Regions from separate parts of the Homo sapiens genome. Here regions 1 and 3 are each linked to region 2. Evidence: fine-mapped expression QTL. A gene starts in region 2. Each other region holds a variant in brackets. All regions are shown on one strand. Distances are from middle to middle.

Evidence for each region.
Region 1: its variant is fine-mapped to the expression of NELFA in subcutaneous fat (GTEx, PIP above 0.99).
Region 3: its variant is fine-mapped to the expression of NELFA in whole blood (INTERVAL, PIP above 0.99).

Annotation. Positions count from the first base shown.
Region 1 is chr4:1,875,107-1,880,942 of GRCh38, reverse strand. All of the region lies in intron 1 of NSD2 (nuclear receptor binding SET domain protein 2), which reads right to left. Among named protein-coding and RNA genes, the nearest start is that of NSD2, 6.6 kb to the right of the region's middle. The variant C/T (reference allele first, on the strand shown) is at 2,435.
Region 2 is chr4:2,005,733-2,011,568 of GRCh38, reverse strand. NELFA (negative elongation factor complex member A) reads left to right here and starts at 2,595. Exons shown (of 11, transcript NM_005663.5): 1 at 2,595-2,819. The coding sequence starts at 2,610. It overlaps LOC124900839, which reads left to right. Exons shown (of 4, transcript XM_047416543.1): 4 at 1,396-2,563. The coding sequence starts at 1,808. The coding sequence ends at 2,563. RefSeq lists a silencer at 1,845-2,224 and enhancers at 2,285-2,804, 2,412-2,912.
Region 3 is chr4:1,979,158-1,984,993 of GRCh38, reverse strand. NSD2 (nuclear receptor binding SET domain protein 2) reads right to left here. Exons shown (of 22, transcript NM_001042424.3): 22 at 2,802-5,836. It overlaps NELFA (negative elongation factor complex member A), which reads left to right. Exons shown (of 11, transcript NM_005663.5): 8 at 75-186; 9 at 881-1,146; 10 at 1,299-1,398; 11 at 1,491-2,271. The coding sequence ends at 1,675. Among named protein-coding and RNA genes, the nearest start is that of MIR943, 4.4 kb to the left of the region's middle. The variant T/ACAGT (reference allele first, on the strand shown) is at 2,207.

The sequences.
Region 1 (5,836 bases), 130 kb after region 2:
AATAATTCCTCAATAATAAATATAATCAGTGTTCCAAATTCTGTCTCAAATATCACAAATGATATTCAGCTGTTTCTCTAACAAACTGATCTGACACAAACACAGATAAGCCCTACAATAAAAATTAGTCCATGTTCCTCCAGTCTCTTGTCATCAGTCCCCTTCATTTTTCCCTGTTGATGAGTATGGCTTACTGGTCTTATAGTTTCCCACATTTCTCAGTGTTGCCAATGGCAACTCTGTAGTATTTCTCTTGCCCCTGTATTTCCTGTAGATTGGTTGTTAAACATAGGAGCTTGACTGGACTCAGGTTTGATTTTTTTTTTTTTTGGCAGGAGTATTTCACAGATTTTTCAAAGATATGACCTTTGCTCACTGTCCCTCCCCATTTCATCCCATTACAGGCCTATAAAACCCATGGGAACGAGGACATAGGTCTTGGCTCATCATTGGCACACAACTGATACTCAATGAATGAAGAAATATCAGGCAGAAGTACACTGCCACACTGACTGGCAGAAATATAATGGCTCAGTCTTCCATGCACATATAGACTGCTGTATGTTAGTTTTCCAAGAGGCAAAACAAAGTAAGTTCCCAGGGTACAGAATCAGAGGTCAGGCCCTGCAGGAGTTCTAACTTCATCACATACAGCCTTGTGACTTTGGATCAGTTACTTGACATCTTTGGGATTCAATTTCCTGCTGTGAGGATTCAATGAGAAGAAGATGCTTTGCTGCTGAAAGATTTGTGTAGCAAGGCTCTACAAAGATTACACCAACTCCGAATTTTGGAGGGGAAAGAACACAGAAGCCTCCTATTTCTAACACATATTTTAACCAAAAATCTAGAAATTCACATTTTTATGAAATAAAAATCATTAGGAAAACAGAATAATACCCAAAAACTATCTCTACTTGTTAACTAAGTGCTTTCCACATTTAGGCACTGAAGACATATCAAAGGGCCCTCACCTTGAAAAATTCACAACCTGGAGAAGAGAATGGGGCAAGAGCCTGTGCAACATGCTAACTGTCATAAGAGGGCCCAGTACTCACAAAGGCATGACAAACTTGGGAGAAAACACACACACACACACACACACACACACACACACAAGTGCCATGGGCCCAGGGTCTGCAACACCCGGTTCTGGTAGAAATAGGGAAAGGCTTCACAGAGATGAGAGGTGAGCCATAAAACCACCACAGCAACACAAAATTAGGCAACTCAGGAAGAAGCAACAGCACATGCAAAGATCCATGGGACAGGGCACGGCTCATCACAAGAGCTACAGGCAGCATGATGAGATCTCACAGCAACCACAAAGGACTGGCCAGCAAAGATGCTAGAAAGACAGGCAGGATCACTGGCCAGAGTCACAGAGGAAAGAAAAAATACACATTTTTTAAAAAATGTGTGTAGGCCAGGCGCGGTGGCTCAAGCCTGTAATCCCAGCATTTTGGGAGGCCGAGGCGGGCGGATCACAAGGTCAGGAGATTGAGACCATCCTGGCTAACACGGTGAAACCCCGTCTCTACTAAAAATACAAAAAAATTAGCCGGGCATGGTGGCGGGCGCCTGTAGTCCCAGCTACTTGGGAGGCTGAGGCAGGAGAATGGTGTGAACCCAGGAGGCGGAGCTTGCAGCGAGCTGAGATCACTCCACTGCACTCCAGCCTGGGTGACAGAGCGAGACTCCGTCTCAAAAAAATAAAATAAAATAAAATAAAATAATTTTAAAAAGTGTTGTATATATTTACATATATACACATAGATACATAAAGGAAAGACAGGCAGGAACCACATGCCATGCTCAAGATCTAGGGCTTTCTCTTCTAAGCAAACAGTGAAGCTCCAGAGACACATTTTTAGGCAGGTAGGTGAGATCAGAGCTTCCTTCTGGAAGGAAATAAGGTAGGTCAGAAGCGAGGCCCACTTTCCCTTCCCCTGGTTCACAGAGAGGTAACAGTACCAGCAACTACCCAATCTTTCCATCTGTAAGGATTGGACCAAGGACCCTCTCCTGCACCACTCTCACGCTATGGCCCAGTCCGGGCAATGCTGCCTCTGCTCATTCTCTCCCACCTGTCCACACCTTCCCAGCCTTGCCTCCTGTGCATTGGTTAAGTCACAGTTCTCCAGCCCTGCTAATGGTGCATAAGGCTCTTCTGTGACCTCTGCCACCAGCCCATGGCCCTCCACCTTTCCAACTCCACATCAAGGCAAAATGCTCACACCACTCCCCTTCATTCACACCATTTCTGGGACATATTATGCCCCCTAAGGCATACGAAGTACTGAGGGCTGTGTATGTATTCAAATAGTCACTGAATGCCTGACAGTCACTCAGGTACCATTCCAGGTGCTGAGGACATGACAGCAAGCCAAGCAAAAGGAAAAAAGTCCCTGCCTTCACAGATGACCCAATGCAG[C/T]CAGGAATTCACATGGAATGTTGGAGGTATGTGCTATGGAGAAAATCTAAGGCAGATGTGGAGTGCCAGATAGCAACAGAATAATTAAAAAAAGTTTTTTTGGCCAGGCATGGTGGCTTACGCCTGTAATCCGAACACTTTGGGAGGCCAAGACAGGCAGATCACTTGAGGTCAGGAGTTCGAGACCAGCCTGGCCAACATGGCCTAGTCTCTACTAAAAATACAAAAAAAAAAAAAAAAAAAAAAAAAAAAAAAAATATATATATATATATATATATATATCAGCCGGGCATGGTGGCACACACCCGTAATCCCAGCTACTTGGGAGGCTGAGGCAGGAGAACCGCTTGAACCCAGGAAGCAGAGGTTGTGGTGAGCCTAGATTGTGCCACTGCACTCCAGCCTGGGTGACAGAGTTAGACTCCGTCTCAGAAGTGTGTGTGTATATATATAATACTTTTTTTAAATTTTATTTTTCTTTTGGGACAGAGTCTTACTGCCACCCAGTCTGGAATGCAGTGGCATAATCGTGGTTCCCTGCAACCTCAAACTCCTGGGCTGGAGTGATCCTCTCGTCTTGGCTTCATAAAGCACCAGGATCACAGATAAACTGTAATAGTACCTGGTCACAACAGAGTACTTTAAATCAGTGGTCAGAGAAGGTGCCCGAGAGGGAGAAGCACAAAGACCTGAAGGAGGGTGAGGGGTAAGCCACACAGATACCTGGGGACAGCATTCCAGGTCAAAGAAGGAACAAGGGCACTAGTCGGAGGCAGCAGAGCTGCAGGGCTTCAGAGCAGGCAAGAGGCCCGTGTGGCTGGAACAGAATGAGAATGGGAGTGGGTGACGATGGAAAAGACAAGAGCCTCCCAAAACAGGCAGGAGTCAGGCACAGCATTCAGTGTGGGGCCCAAGCTGAGACCTGGCAGAAGGAAGGAAGAGGGAAAGCATGCCTATCCCCCAAACACATGGGGTAAGGGGGCACATGGGCAGAAGAAAGGAACAAAAATTGACCACACAAAGGCCCAGAGGAAAAACATGGCAGAAAGAGATGAGCTGAGTAACTGAGATGAGGGCAAAACAAGTAGTGCAGTGAGAGTCAGAAAGCCAGTGAGAGACTCGTCTTGAACCCCAATGGGCAGTGAGAGTCACCCCCTGAAGACTGGGGACACATAGGACATCTGTATTTTAGAAAGACAAGGCAGTGTGTAGAGAACTACCTGAAGACAGTAAAACCGGAGTCGGAAAAATGCTTTCTGATCATTAGCCTCCATAATATAGCAGCAAAAAATATATGAAAACCATCAAAATGTAAGAACATTGCTAACATGCACAGATCCTCTAAAAGCATAACAATTTTTTTTTTTTCCTTGAGACAGAATCTCGTCCTGTCGCCCAGGCTGGAGTGCAGTAGCATGATCTCGGCTCATTTCAACCTCTGCCTCCCAGGCTCAGGGAAGTCTCCTGCCTCAGCCTCCCGAGTAGCTGGGATTACAGGCACCCACCACCACGCCCAGCTAATTTTTTGTATTTTTAGTAGAGACGGGGTTTCACCACATTTCCCAGGCTGGTCTCGAACTCCTGACCTCAGGTGATCTGCCTGCCTTGGCCTCCCAAAGCACTGGGATTACAGGCGTGAGCCACCCACCGCACCAGCAAACGGCATAACAAATTTAATTCACATCATCAACTCTCTCAGTGCCAACTCAAGTCAACTTAAAAATTGAGGTTCCAATTCCTTCCAGAAAAAAAAAGCATTTTTTCTACACACCCACTAGGGTAGTCTCACTATTGGGGTTTTGTGTTTAGGTTTGTTTTTTGAGAGAGGGTTGTGCTATCTCCCAGGCTGGAGTGTGGTGGTATGATCACAGCTCACTGCAGCCTCAAAGTCCTGGACTCAGGTGACCTCCCACTTCAGCCACCCAAGTATCTGGGACTATAGGCACACACCACCAAGCCCAGCTAATTTTCAAAAATTTTTGTAGAGATGGGGTCTCCCTATGTTGCCCAAGCTGGTGTCAAACTCCTAGTCTCAAGTGATCCTCCCACCTCAGCCTCCCAAAGTGCTGCAATTACAGGCATGAGCAACTGTGCCTATCCACTACTGGAGTTTTTGAGCTGAGGCCATCACTCAGCTAACCAACACTGCAATTTCTATCCTTGTATATTTTGTTGAAACCACTAAGTATTACAGAAAGTAAAATGCTTTGAAAACTCATCTGGGGCCAGGTGGTTTTAGGAAAGCAGATACTAAAACAAAACTAATTTGAAATCTGTCTTGGTTTTTTTTTTTTGAGACAGGGGTCTTGCTCTGTCAACCAGGGTGGAGGGCAGTGGCGCGATCTCAGCTCACTGCAAGCTCCGCCTCCCAGGTTCACACCATTCTCCTGCCTCAGCCTCCCGAGTAGCTGGGACTACAGGCACTGCAACCATGCCCAGCTTATTTTTTATATTTTTAGTAGAGACAGGGTTTCACCATGTTAGCCAGGATGGTCTCAATCTCCTGACCTCATGATCCACCCGCCTCGGCCTCCCAAAGTGCTGGGATTACAAGCTTGAGCCACCGCACCCAGCCAAAATCTGTCTTGAATTCTTTTTTTTTGAGATGGAGTCTCGCTGTCTCCCAGGCTGGAGTGCAGTGGCGCAGTCTTGGCTCACTGCAAGCTCCGCCTCCTGGGTTAACGCCATTCTCCTGCCTCAGCCTCCCGAGTAGCTGGGACTACAGGCGTCCACCACCATGCCCAGCTAATTTTTTGTATTTTTTTTTTTTAGTAGAAACGGGGTTTCATCATGTTAGCCAGGATGGTCTCGACCTCCTGACCTCGTGATCCAACCGCCTCGGCCTCCCAAAGTGCTGGGATTACAGGCGTGAGCCACTGCACCCGGCCAATCTGTCTGGATTTTTTAACTAGCAAACCAAATGTAATCAAATCAATCAATTCTTTAAAAAGCTATACTGCAGGCCAGGCACAAGGCCGAAGTGGGAGGATCACCTGAGCCCAGGAGTTCATGACCAGCCTGGGCAACATGGTGAAATCCTGTCTGTATAAAACACAAAAATTAGCCAGGCATGGTGGCACATGCCTGTTGTCCCAGCTACTCAGGAGGCTGAGGTAGGAGGATCGATTGAGCCCAGGTGATCAAGGCTGCAATGAGCCGTGATCATATGACTCCACTCTAACCTGGGTAACACAGCAAAACCCTGTCCCAAAAAAAAAAAAAAAAAAAGTAAAAAGCTATACTGCAACTTGGCCGGGCACAGTGGTTCACACTTGTAATCCCAGTACTTTGGGAGGCCAAGGCAGGAGGATCACTTGAGGCCAGGAGTTACAGAGACCAGCCCAAACACTGCAAGACTGACTCCATAAAAAATTTTAAAATTAGCCAAGCATGGTGGCATCT
Region 2 (5,836 bases):
AATATGGGAACAACTGGATACCATGTTTTAAAATGAAAAAAACTTTGGCTTTCTAATTTTGCAATCTGATAGGTGTAATGAGGCATCTTGTTATTTTAATTTGGGTTTGTCAGGTTGCTGATGAATTTAAGCATCTCTCCATGTGCTTCTCCGGTATTTGGGTTTCTCCTACGAATTGCTTTTTTTTTTTTTTTTTTTTTTGAGACAGAGTCTCGCTCTGTGGCCCACGCCTGAGTTCAGTGGTGTGATTTCCGCTCCCTCCAACCTCTGCCTCCTGGGTTCAAGCGATTCTCCTGCCTCAGCCTCCTGAGTAGCTGGGATGACAGGCATGAACCACCACGCCCCACTGTTTTCGTATTTTTAGTAGAAACGGGGTTTCACTATGATGGCCAGGCTGTGAATTGCCTATTCTTATCTTCTGCACATTTGTCTATTGTCGGTCTTTTTCTCGTCGATTTACAAGCATTCCTTTTTTCATTCTGAATATTAATCCATTGCTTTCTGATGCTGTAACTAAGTCCTCCTAGTGGTTTGTCTTCTTGGTTAAGCCAGATGTTAACTTGGATTTTTCCTGCATAAAACTGAAGACTCAAGATGCATCAAGCACTGTATACAGAAAAGTGCTGCGTATCCTACAGAAAGCTACAGACAGTTGGGGGTCAGAATCATTCGGATTGTTTCAAGTTTGGGGCTATTATAAATAAAGCTGCTATAAACGTTTGCACACAGGTTTCTGTGAACAAAAATTTTCATTTCAACCAACTAATGTTTACGGTTCAATCATGATTTCACAACTTGAAGTAACTTTCACTCTTCTCATACTAAATTTGATATGTCGTCCACTGTTAAACTATTTCTTACCCTCAGATTATAATTATTAAACTTTTTTTTTTTTTTTTGAGAGGGAGTTTTGCTCTTGTGGCCCAGGCTGGAGTGCAATGGCAAAATCTCGGCTCACCGCAGACTCCGCCTCCCGGGTTCAAGCCATTCTCCTGCCTCAGCCTCCCGAGTAGCTGGGCTTACAGGCAAGCCATGCGCCACCAAGCCCGGCTAGTTTTGTATTTTTAGTAGAGACGAGGTTTCTCCATGCTGGCCAGGCTGGTCTCGAACTCCCGACCTCAGGTGATCCGCCCGCCTTGGCCTCCCAAAGTGCTGGGATTACAGGCGTGAGCCACCGTGACCGGCCTAATCATTAAACTTCTTTCAGCACTAGCCCCACTGATGTCACAACTTCACCCATTAGTCAATAACTTGTCTTTGCTGAATTCGACACTTTTGAATCATTTAAAAAATATTCTCTTAAATTTTATGTGCTATTTGCAATGTAACGGTTGTCGACATGACAGTTTTAAGTTTAATCTTTATCATCAACATTTTCTCTATCACTTTCTTCAGTTTAAGCAATCAACAAAACCACCGCTCCAGCACTGATTTGTAGCATTTGCGGGTTTCCCCCGTGTGACTTCCGCAGGACTGCCAAGTTCAAGCCGCCAGGGCCAGGGCACTGCTAGCAGCTGGGCTGAGCCCTGTTCTCCCGGCGTTCCCACCGCCCAGTGGCAATAGCTGTGAACGGCGGCAGGAGCATGGCAGTGGAACAATAAGGAAAAGATCTTTTAAAAAAAAGATATAATACAGAAGCCAAGCAAGGCGGCCCCGACCTGTAACCCCAGCACTCTGGGAGGCAGAGGCGGGCGGGCGGATCGCTTGAGCCCAGGAGTTTGAGACCAGCCTGGCCAACATAGGAAGGCCTCGTCAAAAAGACAAAAGGGTAAAACGAATTTAATAAAATGAAGTTTAACTTTTACTCATGTTTGTATCTAATGACAAGCTTTTAAAACTGAAAAGTTCACTACTGGCTCCTGCCTGGCGGCTCCAGCCCGACTGGGGGCCGGGGCCTCCCTGCACTGTGGGGTCACGAGTGCCCCTGGACAGCTCCCGAGCGCCCTCCGACCCGCATGCTCAGCGCAGCCCCGTCGGCGGCGCGCCACGGGCAGAGCGGGCTCAGCGGGGGACGGAAGCTCAGCGCTGCGACCGGGATCCCGCAGGCTCGCTCCGCAGGGCCGCGGCTCCTCTCCGTGCAGGTGCTGGGCCCGCGGGGGCGGGGCGTCCACACGGTCCGCGCCGAGACCCAAGCGGGGAAAAAGCGAAGAGCGGACAGCGGGGCAGGTGCCACAGGGAGCCTCCGCCCCACCGCGCGAGCAGCAAGTCTGCGGCGCTTGACACCTGCACTGCGAATGCCAGGCCGCAGCCCGGGCTCCCAAGACGCGAATACGCGCGCCTGCTCGTGACGTCATTTTTTGCGGTCTTCCCGAGAGCCAGCAGAGGGCGCCGCCATGATGTTTTACGGAAGCCGATAGTCCTTGCTCAGCGGCACCCCGTCCTTCCGGCTCTCGGCTTTGCCACAAAGCTTCCCGAAGACGCGGCCGCTACCCGGAGACGCGGTCGCCACCCAGAAGCGCTCTCCCGGGAAGCCCCGCTCGTGGGACCGCGCCACCTGCGCCGCCTCTGCGGCCCGCAGCCCGACGGGCGCCGCCATGTTGGGGTCCTAGCGAGGGACGCGTAGGTGTCTTCATAAGATGCCGGGGCAGCGGCGCGCGCTTTCCCCCAAGATGGCGTCCATGCGGGAGAGCGACACGGGCCTGTGGCTGCACAACAAGCTGGGGGCCACGGACGAGCTGTGGGCGCCGCCCAGCATCGCGTCCCTGCTCACGGCCGCGGTCATCGACAACATCCGTCTCTGCTTCCATGGCCTCTCGTCGGCAGTGAAGCTCAAGTTGCTACTCGGGACGCTGCACCTCCCGCGCCGCACGGTGGACGAGGTAAGGCAGGCGTGGCGCCCCGCGGCCCCCAGATTCCCAACCTTCCCACCTCCGACCCGCACACCCAACTCCGGACCCTCCTCGCTCCCTCCCCCAACCTTCCCATCCCCCTTCAGACTGTTAACCCCCCCGGCCCGCCCTCACGCCCCCTCCTCGCTCCTCCGAATACCTCCCTCCAGTCCTCACCTCCCCCTGGGTCCTCATCCCCCGCCTCGATCCTCATCTCCCACCTCGGTTCTCATCCCCACCGTGGGTCTTCAGGACCCCCCGCCCCTCCTCGCCCCCTGGGAATCCCCCACTAGGGTCCTCACCTCCCTACTTTTCGTCCTCACCCCTACCCAAGTTTTCACCTCCCCTGGGATCCTCAATCTCCTCCCCGCCGGGCCCCGGGTTCTCGCTACGACCCCCAGGTCCTCACTCCCCTCCCTGGGCCCCCGGGTACTCATCCCCACCCGCCCCCGCCTCCCCCGCCTTCGGTCCTCACCACCCTAATCCCCCACCGTGCCGAAGCGACCGACTCTTGGAGCGGGGGTGCGCCGGCCCCAGCGGGGTCTCCCATCGGGGTTTCCCGTCGGGGACGCAGCCCTGGTGACCTGGGCGAGGGCGGGGATCCCGAGAGAAACCCCCGCGTGAGGAAGGGGCGGCCTGGGCTCGGTAGCTCCAGTGTCCGCTGACTGGATTTTCTTGTTCTCACCTCGCAAAGACCCCGGCCGTCCGGAGCGCTCTGTGTCCGTTTTACTCTTTTCTACACGCCGTTTTGCGTCATTCCAATAAGTGGGTGTGTGAGGTTTGTTTTCTTTTTTCCTAAACTTTATATTGTATCGCTTTCCGTGCGAAATAAACCGAGTAGTTTTGCAGACTATTGAAGCCCCATGGTTGTTTAAACGTTCCTGGCTACTGATGTATTATTAGCTATTATAGGTTGTAATTGCTTTTGATTGAGATATGACATGTATGGAAAAGTGCATTTTTGTTCAGTTTAACGAATAATAATAGCATCGCGAGCCACTCCTGTGATCCTTACACAGGTGGAGAAGTAGAACCATGCCTGTTCCTTGGAAGCCTCCCACTGGTAATCACGGCCTTCTTCCTTTCCCCTTCCTCATTTTGGAAAGGTAATCATTTCTGTGCCATCTCCCCGGTGTGAGCAATTATTTATGCACCCCTAAATGGCACAGCTTGGTTGCCGGATTTGGAGTTAGTGTGATGGTATCATAGTGTATTTTGTGTGTGGCGTGCATGTGTCTTTTTGGTCGACGCCGTGACAGTTTCATCCACGTTGCAGCTGACTGCAGTTTAATTTTCACTGCTGCGTGGTATTCCTGTCTGTGAGCACGAGGCACTTTATCCATTCTGCCACAGTGACACGCTTAGCTTTTGTGCTCTTGTAAATCATCCCGTTACTACATTACGGTCATATGTTCAGGTGTTTGGAATCTTGGATTTCTCTAGGGTATAACATCTAGGAGTGGAATTGTGAGGATCATAGGATCATGCCAAATTATTTTTCAGAGTGTTTTGTTTTTGTGTTTGTGTTTTGTTTGAGACAGGGTCTGGCGCTGTCAACCAGGCTGGAGTGCAGTGGCACCATCGTGACTCACTGCAGCCTTGACCTCCTCACCTCAGATCTTCCCATCTCAGCCTCCTGAGTAGCTGGGACTACAGGGTTTCACCATGCTGCCCAGGCTGGTCTTGAACTCCTGACCTCAAGCAATCTGCTTGCCTCAGCCTCCTGAAGGGCTGGGATTACAGGTGTGAGCCATGGCACTCGGCCTGCTGTTTGGTTTTCTGCTTTGAGAATTGTATATTCAAATCTGCTTTTAAATTCTCTTTTTTCCCATTGTTTTGTAAGAGTGTCTTTTTTATTATTTATTATAAATGCTAGATATCAGTCCTTTTTCAGTTACAAATATCTCCCAGTTGTCCTTTGACTTTGACTTAGCTTCCTGGAATCCTTTTTTTTTTTTTTTTTTTTTTTTTTGAGACAGCGTCTCACTCTGTCACCCAGGCTAGAGTCTAGTGGTATAATCATAGCTCACTTTAACCTTGAACTCCTGGGCTTAAGCAGTCCTCCCTCCTAAACCTCTGTAGTAGCTGGGACTGATGCGCTGCCACCACGCCTGGCTAATTTTTGTGCATGTGTATGGAGATGGGGGTCTTACTGTATTGCCCAGGCTGGTCTTGAACTCCTAGCCTCAAGTGATCCTCCTGCCTTGGCCTCCCATAGTGTTGGGATTACAGGTGTGATCTGTGCGCCCAGCCCTTTTCCTGGAATCATGGATGAATAGAAGCTCCTAGTTTTAACATAGATGGTGTATTCATCCGCCCACTATCATTGGTGCCTATTGTGTCTCCCCGAGGGACATGCCCGGAACACTCCCTGGGTTATCTTGGCGTAGCTGTACAGTTTTACCTTTCGCACTTGAATCTTCAGTCTGCGTGGAATTGATGATTGTGTGAAGCAGGGAGTCTAATTTTCCACATGGATGTGCAATTAGTCCAGCACCCAACGTTGATTGAAATGACTGTCCTTTTCCATTGATCTGCACTGCAGCTTCTGCTGTGGATGTGTTTCTGGGCTGTGCTCTGTTCTTTTGGTCATTTACATATCGATGTGCTAATAACCCACTAAGTCGGTTCTTGTCACTTTATTTATAAGCCTTGTTAGCGGACGGAGCAAACCCTCCCACTGTATCTTTCTCCGGGATCATCTATGGCTATTCTTGTCCCTTCACACTTCCACATGTATCTTATATACTTACTTCTTAAACACGTAGAGCCTGCCTGCTGGGATTTTAAGGCTGAGCTGAACTTGCAGTTCATTCTGGGGTGCTGTCCTCTTTATATTGCATCCTATAATTTGTGGGTGTGGGCTTATCTATTTAGATGTTCTTTGTGATCTCTGTAGGGGTCTTCCATCTCATATATTACCACCTATTTCATATTTTTCCATGCCGTTGTAAATGGTATCTGTTAAAGTCTTAGTTTTTACTTGTTGCTGGTATATAGAAATGCGT
Region 3 (5,836 bases), 27 kb after region 2:
CGGGTCGGGCCATGTGTTAGCACATGCCGGAAGCATGGCCTCTTCTGGAAGGAACCTTAAACTCTGTGTTCCAGAAACTTGGGTCCCTGAACAATGAGCCTGCGCTGCCCTCCACGAGCTACCTTCCCTCCACGCCCAGCGTGGTTCCCGCCTCCTCCTACATCCCCAGCTCCGAGACGCCCCCAGGTGAGTCTGCTGGCCCCAGCCTGGAACCAGCCAAGCTGCCTGCCAGGACATGACCTTGCCCACGGGCGCTGCCAGGGCTGCGGTTCTCACTCCTGCATCTCTGTTGTCCCCCTTCTGCCTCAGCCAGAATCTGCTGGGGGCAGATGCCCCGCTGTTCAGCTTGAGCTCCAAGACATAAACCAGCTGCTTTGCCCCACCCTGCCCGTCCTGGGCACAGACAGGCAGCGGCCCCAGGGGACACGGCAGGAAGGGGATTGGGTTCGAAAGGGTTTTCTGCCAGGTGACCCAGCTCTTGTTGCTGGGTAGGCGGGAGGGGAGCTGAGAGCCATCCCCTCCCAGACGGAGGGCACTGCCAGGCTCACAGCACCTCAGGCCAGGTCCTGGGCCCAAGGGGCTTGAGGATACAGCCTTCCTGTCTTCCCAGCAGTGCCTACGGTATGGGGACCTGCTGCAGGCCAGCAGCTGGCCAGAGTCCAGACATCTTATCTGCGAGTCTGGAAAGGCCTGAGACCACTGGCCTTGTTCCTCTGGCTGGGGCTTCTGGGGCCTGTGCCTTGGCTGGGGGCCACAGGGAGTTCTTGTCAGAGGGTAGCAGGACAGAGAAGGGGAGCTGAGCCTGTCACCTCCAGGAGCACTAGGGTTTGGGAACAGGGTGGGGGTCCAGCCCCCTCACCAGGCCCCGGTCTACTTGCAGCCCCATCTTCCCGGGAAGCCAGCCGCCCACCAGAGGAGCCCAGCGCCCCGAGCCCCACGTTGCCAGCGCAGTTCAAGCAGCGGGCGCCCATGTACAACAGCGGCCTGAGCCCTGCCACACCCACGCCTGCGGCGCCCACCTCGCCTCTGACACCCACCACACCTCCGGCTGTCGCCCCTACCACTCAGACACCCCCGGTTGCCATGGTGGCCCCGCAGACCCAGGCCCCTGCTCAGCAGCAGCCTAAGAAGAACCTGTCCCTCACGGTAGGTGTACACTGGTAGGGCCCACAGGCCACCAGGTAGGTGGTACGGCCCTGGCCACCTCCCCTAGCGTGGGGGTGCCACGGTGCCTGCAGGGGGATGCAGGAGGTGGTCCTGGCGGGGCCCTGGCACCCACACCCCTCTCCCCGCTGTAGAGAGAGCAGATGTTCGCTGCCCAGGAGATGTTCAAGACGGCCAACAAAGTCACGCGGCCCGAGAAGGCCCTCATCCTGGGCTTCATGGCCGGCTCCCGAGGTATGTTCATAAGGCAGGGCCTGGGGGTGCACCGGGCCGGGTTGGGGGCGGGTGCCCCCAGACACCCACCCAGCAGCTCCTGCTCTCTGCAGAGAACCCGTGCCAGGAGCAGGGGGACGTGATCCAGATCAAGCTGAGCGAGCACACGGAGGACCTGCCCAAGGCGGACGGCCAGGGTAGCACAACCATGCTGGTGGACACAGTGTTTGAGATGAACTATGCCACGGGCCAGTGGACGCGCTTCAAGAAGTACAAGCCCATGACCAATGTGTCCTAGAACCACCTGCCTCACAGCTGGCCGTCACTTGTGGGGGTCCACGGGACGATGGCTTTGCCAGCTTAAAGTAACCGGATGGCGGACACCTGGCCCCCGAGGTCCCCCGGCCGCCGCCCTGCTGCTGACCCAGCCTGTTTTAAGTTCTGGATGCATTTCTCTGGGGTATTTGGGGCTTATTTTTAAAATTTTAATATGGGTTCTTTTTTGTGTGATTTAAGACACTTTTTGGACTCAACGTTACATTTTTGAATGTAGTAAGTAAATTAACCAAAAAAGTTACAACTTCCTAATTTTAGTGACAGCTCTGCCTGTTAGACTCTTACTTTTTAAAATCTTTTCTATTTTCCCTCGCTGGGGCAGTGCCCTCCTACCCCCAGGGTTGAGGGGACCAAGGTGGCACGGTGGTACTGGGGGTGCGGCAGGGACACCCGACCACACCAGAGCGTGGGAGACGGTGGGCCTTGTCCCCTGCCTGTGCCTGCCTGGGAGTTTTGTATTCATCTTTTGTATAGTTGTGGACATTTAAGACAG[T/ACAGT]CTTTGGGTACCTATTTTCATTGTAAAACTATCTGAACCATTAAAGTCGAGCTTTTCTAAAGAAAGCCACCATAGCTGTGTTTGGGGCCAGCTTGTCCTCCCTGCTCCGGGGACCCAGTCCCTCCCTAGGCGGCCATCAGGACGGGGTGGGCCAGGGCTGGGGGCTTCCTAGGACACCCTGGCCCACAGGGTGGGGAACAGGTAGGATCAGCCCTCGGGGTACTCCCTTGACTTACTTGGCTGTGGGCCTGGGGACCACCCGGCTCAGCCGACTGCAGGGCTGGGGGACAGCAGTGCTTCCTTCTCTCTAGACCATTTCACCCTTAATGGGAATTTGGGAAGCAAATTATTTCTGAAAGAAGAAGAAAGCATTTTTCCAAAGTCAGTCAGTTATGCCTGCTATTTCCAGTATTTGTTGTTATACTTCCCAAGGTGGCACTGCCTCTCCCCAGCGGGTCAGGTCAAAGGCAAAATGACACAGTCAGGACAGGGAGCCCCACCCATCGGAGGCATCAGTGCCACACCCGATGCTTTGCAATTCAAAGTAACTGGAAAAAAAATCAAACAATCCCATATAAAATAAGTTAAGAAAAAAGCCTTTAAAATGTTTTTAATACAAAAATACTCATACACAATTTTCCAAACACAGCTTTCCATTTTAAATGCTATTTTCCCCCAACTGGCAAGTCTCAACTCTCTATTTCAGTATATCCCTCCCCCCAAAAAGTGAATTTCAAGTTTTTAAGTCTAACTATCAAACCTGGTGACAGCACCCAGTATTCCTAAAAGGAATCTGACCTTACATTGTATGAAGTTTAGACACCAATAGGCACATTTAAGTTTGTATTTAATTTCTGACGGGGCATTTCACACCTCAACAGGGTATGGTGAGGCTGTGACACCCCGTGGACACAGCATTTTACTCTACTGACTAACAAACAGTCATCAACTACACTCATAGGATCAAGATATTTGGCAACTGACAGTCATTTGCATTAACTTGAATTATAAAACAGGTTTAATTCTGGAAAATAAGGTAGTCCTGGAAGATGGGCACTGCACACGCCGGGGTTTAGATGTCAAGACAGACAAACACTGCGAAGGGGACCCAGCCAGCCATGGACGGGTGTCGCCGGAAGAAAGGCCGGCCTGAGGACGGACAGCTGGGTTCTCACTTCAGGTGCCTGAAGAGTTTCCCCCACAGGTGACCACATTTTAAGCTGCCCATTCGGACACATCCCCCTGTGGGCGCACACGGGTGGGTATGGGTTTAGGTGCAGATGCTGGTTTCGGATGCCAAGGAATCCTGAGGGATTGGGGCGGTTTTTGTGTTTTGCTTCACATTAATGATGGAGGATTGAAGCTGATGTTCAGGAAGTCACCACGTCCTCAGAACAAAGCTGGGCAGGGCCGAGAGCCAGCCACACCCACGGTCACAGCTGGGGGCGTGGTCAGCCCCAGTGGCGAGAAACCCTGCAAGCTCAGGGCCGCTACCCCAAAGCCTGGCTCCACTGAGTTATCAACGGGTATTGTAGAGACATTCAAAGTTAGTGTTACTTGCTCATTAGTTTAACAGTTTTTGGAAAGGGGGAGAAACATATTTAAAATGTTTGCATTATTTCCTTCAGAAAAATCATAAAATTTGGAAGTATTATCAAAGCGATTAAAAATCACAAGATTTCACTACTGTCCAACACAAAAATAAGTTAATATCTGCTCCCCAAAGTGCACTGCAAAGCCGATTCTGCTGTTTTGACGTAAGCATTGGTAGTCCCTTACCTGCCGGAAGGGATCTTTTGGGCAAGTGACAGCGGGGCCCTGGGGCCTTCGACTCTAAGGTGTGTGTGGGGACACTGCCCGGCCTGTCCCTAGAACAACCTTCCAAGTTAGGGCATCATAAGGAGCATAAATCTATGAGCCGATCCAGTATTTTCTTAGGACACTTTGGGAGAAGTTAGAGTCTGAACTGGAAAGCACTACTCCCACCCTGTCTTAACCGGCGAGTGCCCCTCAGAGGCCACGGCCGCGCGAGCAAGTCAGTGGCTACACAGCTCGTTTCCCCTGGGTCCTCTGTGTAGTTAACTTTGCTGGGGACCCTGATGGGAGAAGGGACAGCCACCAGCCAGTGAAACTTCCAGTCAGTGCTCAGGGAGGCGTGGGACCCTGCAGGGCCACACACCCCTGAACCCCACGCTTACAGGTCACAAAACCACGGAGTAGCCACTCTCAGGTCCAAAGACACTGCAGTTTTTACCAAGGCATAAAAGATGCCACAGAAAATTTAACAGGAGCCTCAGCAGCAGTTTTCAAGGGGAGTTCTGTAAACTTCTCTGCAAGATGGATGTGTCCCCCTTAGGTTATTTTAAGAAAAGGCCATAAAAAAGCACCTGCTGCTGAATGTTCTCTCCCTCCCTCCCAGACAAGCAGCCCCTCAGGACACGTGGGCAAAGGCACACATGGTGCCCCCTTCTCAGGGTGCTCCAGACTTCCCAGGGTCAAGGATCCCTCAAAAAAAGAACCAAGTCTTAAAACATATGTAGTACTCAGATAGATAGGTCTCACTCTGTAGAACTGGACCTTTTAAAAACTAAAGTGAAATCTCACAGGAGAGTGGGTGTCATACCTGGCCTAGACCAGTGCCCATAACACACGTACGAGGCACGCACACCTGCCAGGCAGGCCTCCACCCCCAGGACCGCACCTCTCAGTAGGTGCCCTGGCAGAGGGCACATGTGATCAGCAGAGACTGCATCTTCCATCACCAGACCCACAGAGTGCTGAGATGGAAGCCACTCTGGGTGGCAGGAGAGCTAGACTCCGTCTCTCTTTAGACCCACGTGCTGGGGTCCCCGGGGCCTGCAGCGCCCTACGGGGCTCCCTAAGTTGTCACTTCCTGTGCTCTAAGCAGACTGCGGTCTCACGCCCTGCAAAGTCACTCCTTTCGCCATGGAGCTCAGGGCCGCATCAGTAAACACACACTTCAGTCGGTGGTGATTTGTGAAATAGGTTTAGCAAAAATATATTGAGAATAAAAATCAGAAACTGGTAAAGAAAAGCCAAATGAAAAAAATATACAAAGTTATCCCCCAAATGTTGATAAGAACCTAGCGAGTTCAGAAGATAGGCCCAGGTGAGAAGTAGGCCCAACCCGGCCAGGCCTCGAAAGTGCTCCGCGTAAACTACACGTTGAAAGTGGACGTGTTATTGGCATTTCATTCAAATCCATGAGGAGAAAAAACTACGGGAGGAAATCTTACAACACCATTGCTGCCACCACCTGCAGGGCCAGCTTCTCACTAGGATGGAAAAGAAGCGTTTCTGAGGAACAATTCACATTAGTACAAAAAAATGATACAGCCATTTCCAAAGAGCAGAGTAATGATCACAATGGCAGTTTCGAGGAATCCAGGGTCAGTCCTCACACGGGCCTCACCCAGCCTCTCCCGAGTGGCGACGGCGCTGAGAGCCAGAAAGGGGGCAACGCGAAGACGAGTTTCTAGCGACCCTTGGGAAAAGCCTACGCTACACATTTCAGAGGAGATTAAAACATTCCATATGCCAATTAACTTTAACCTAAAAAAATAGAGTGGGAGGGAACCTTGACATTCGGAGAAATTCAAGTGTGGCGGT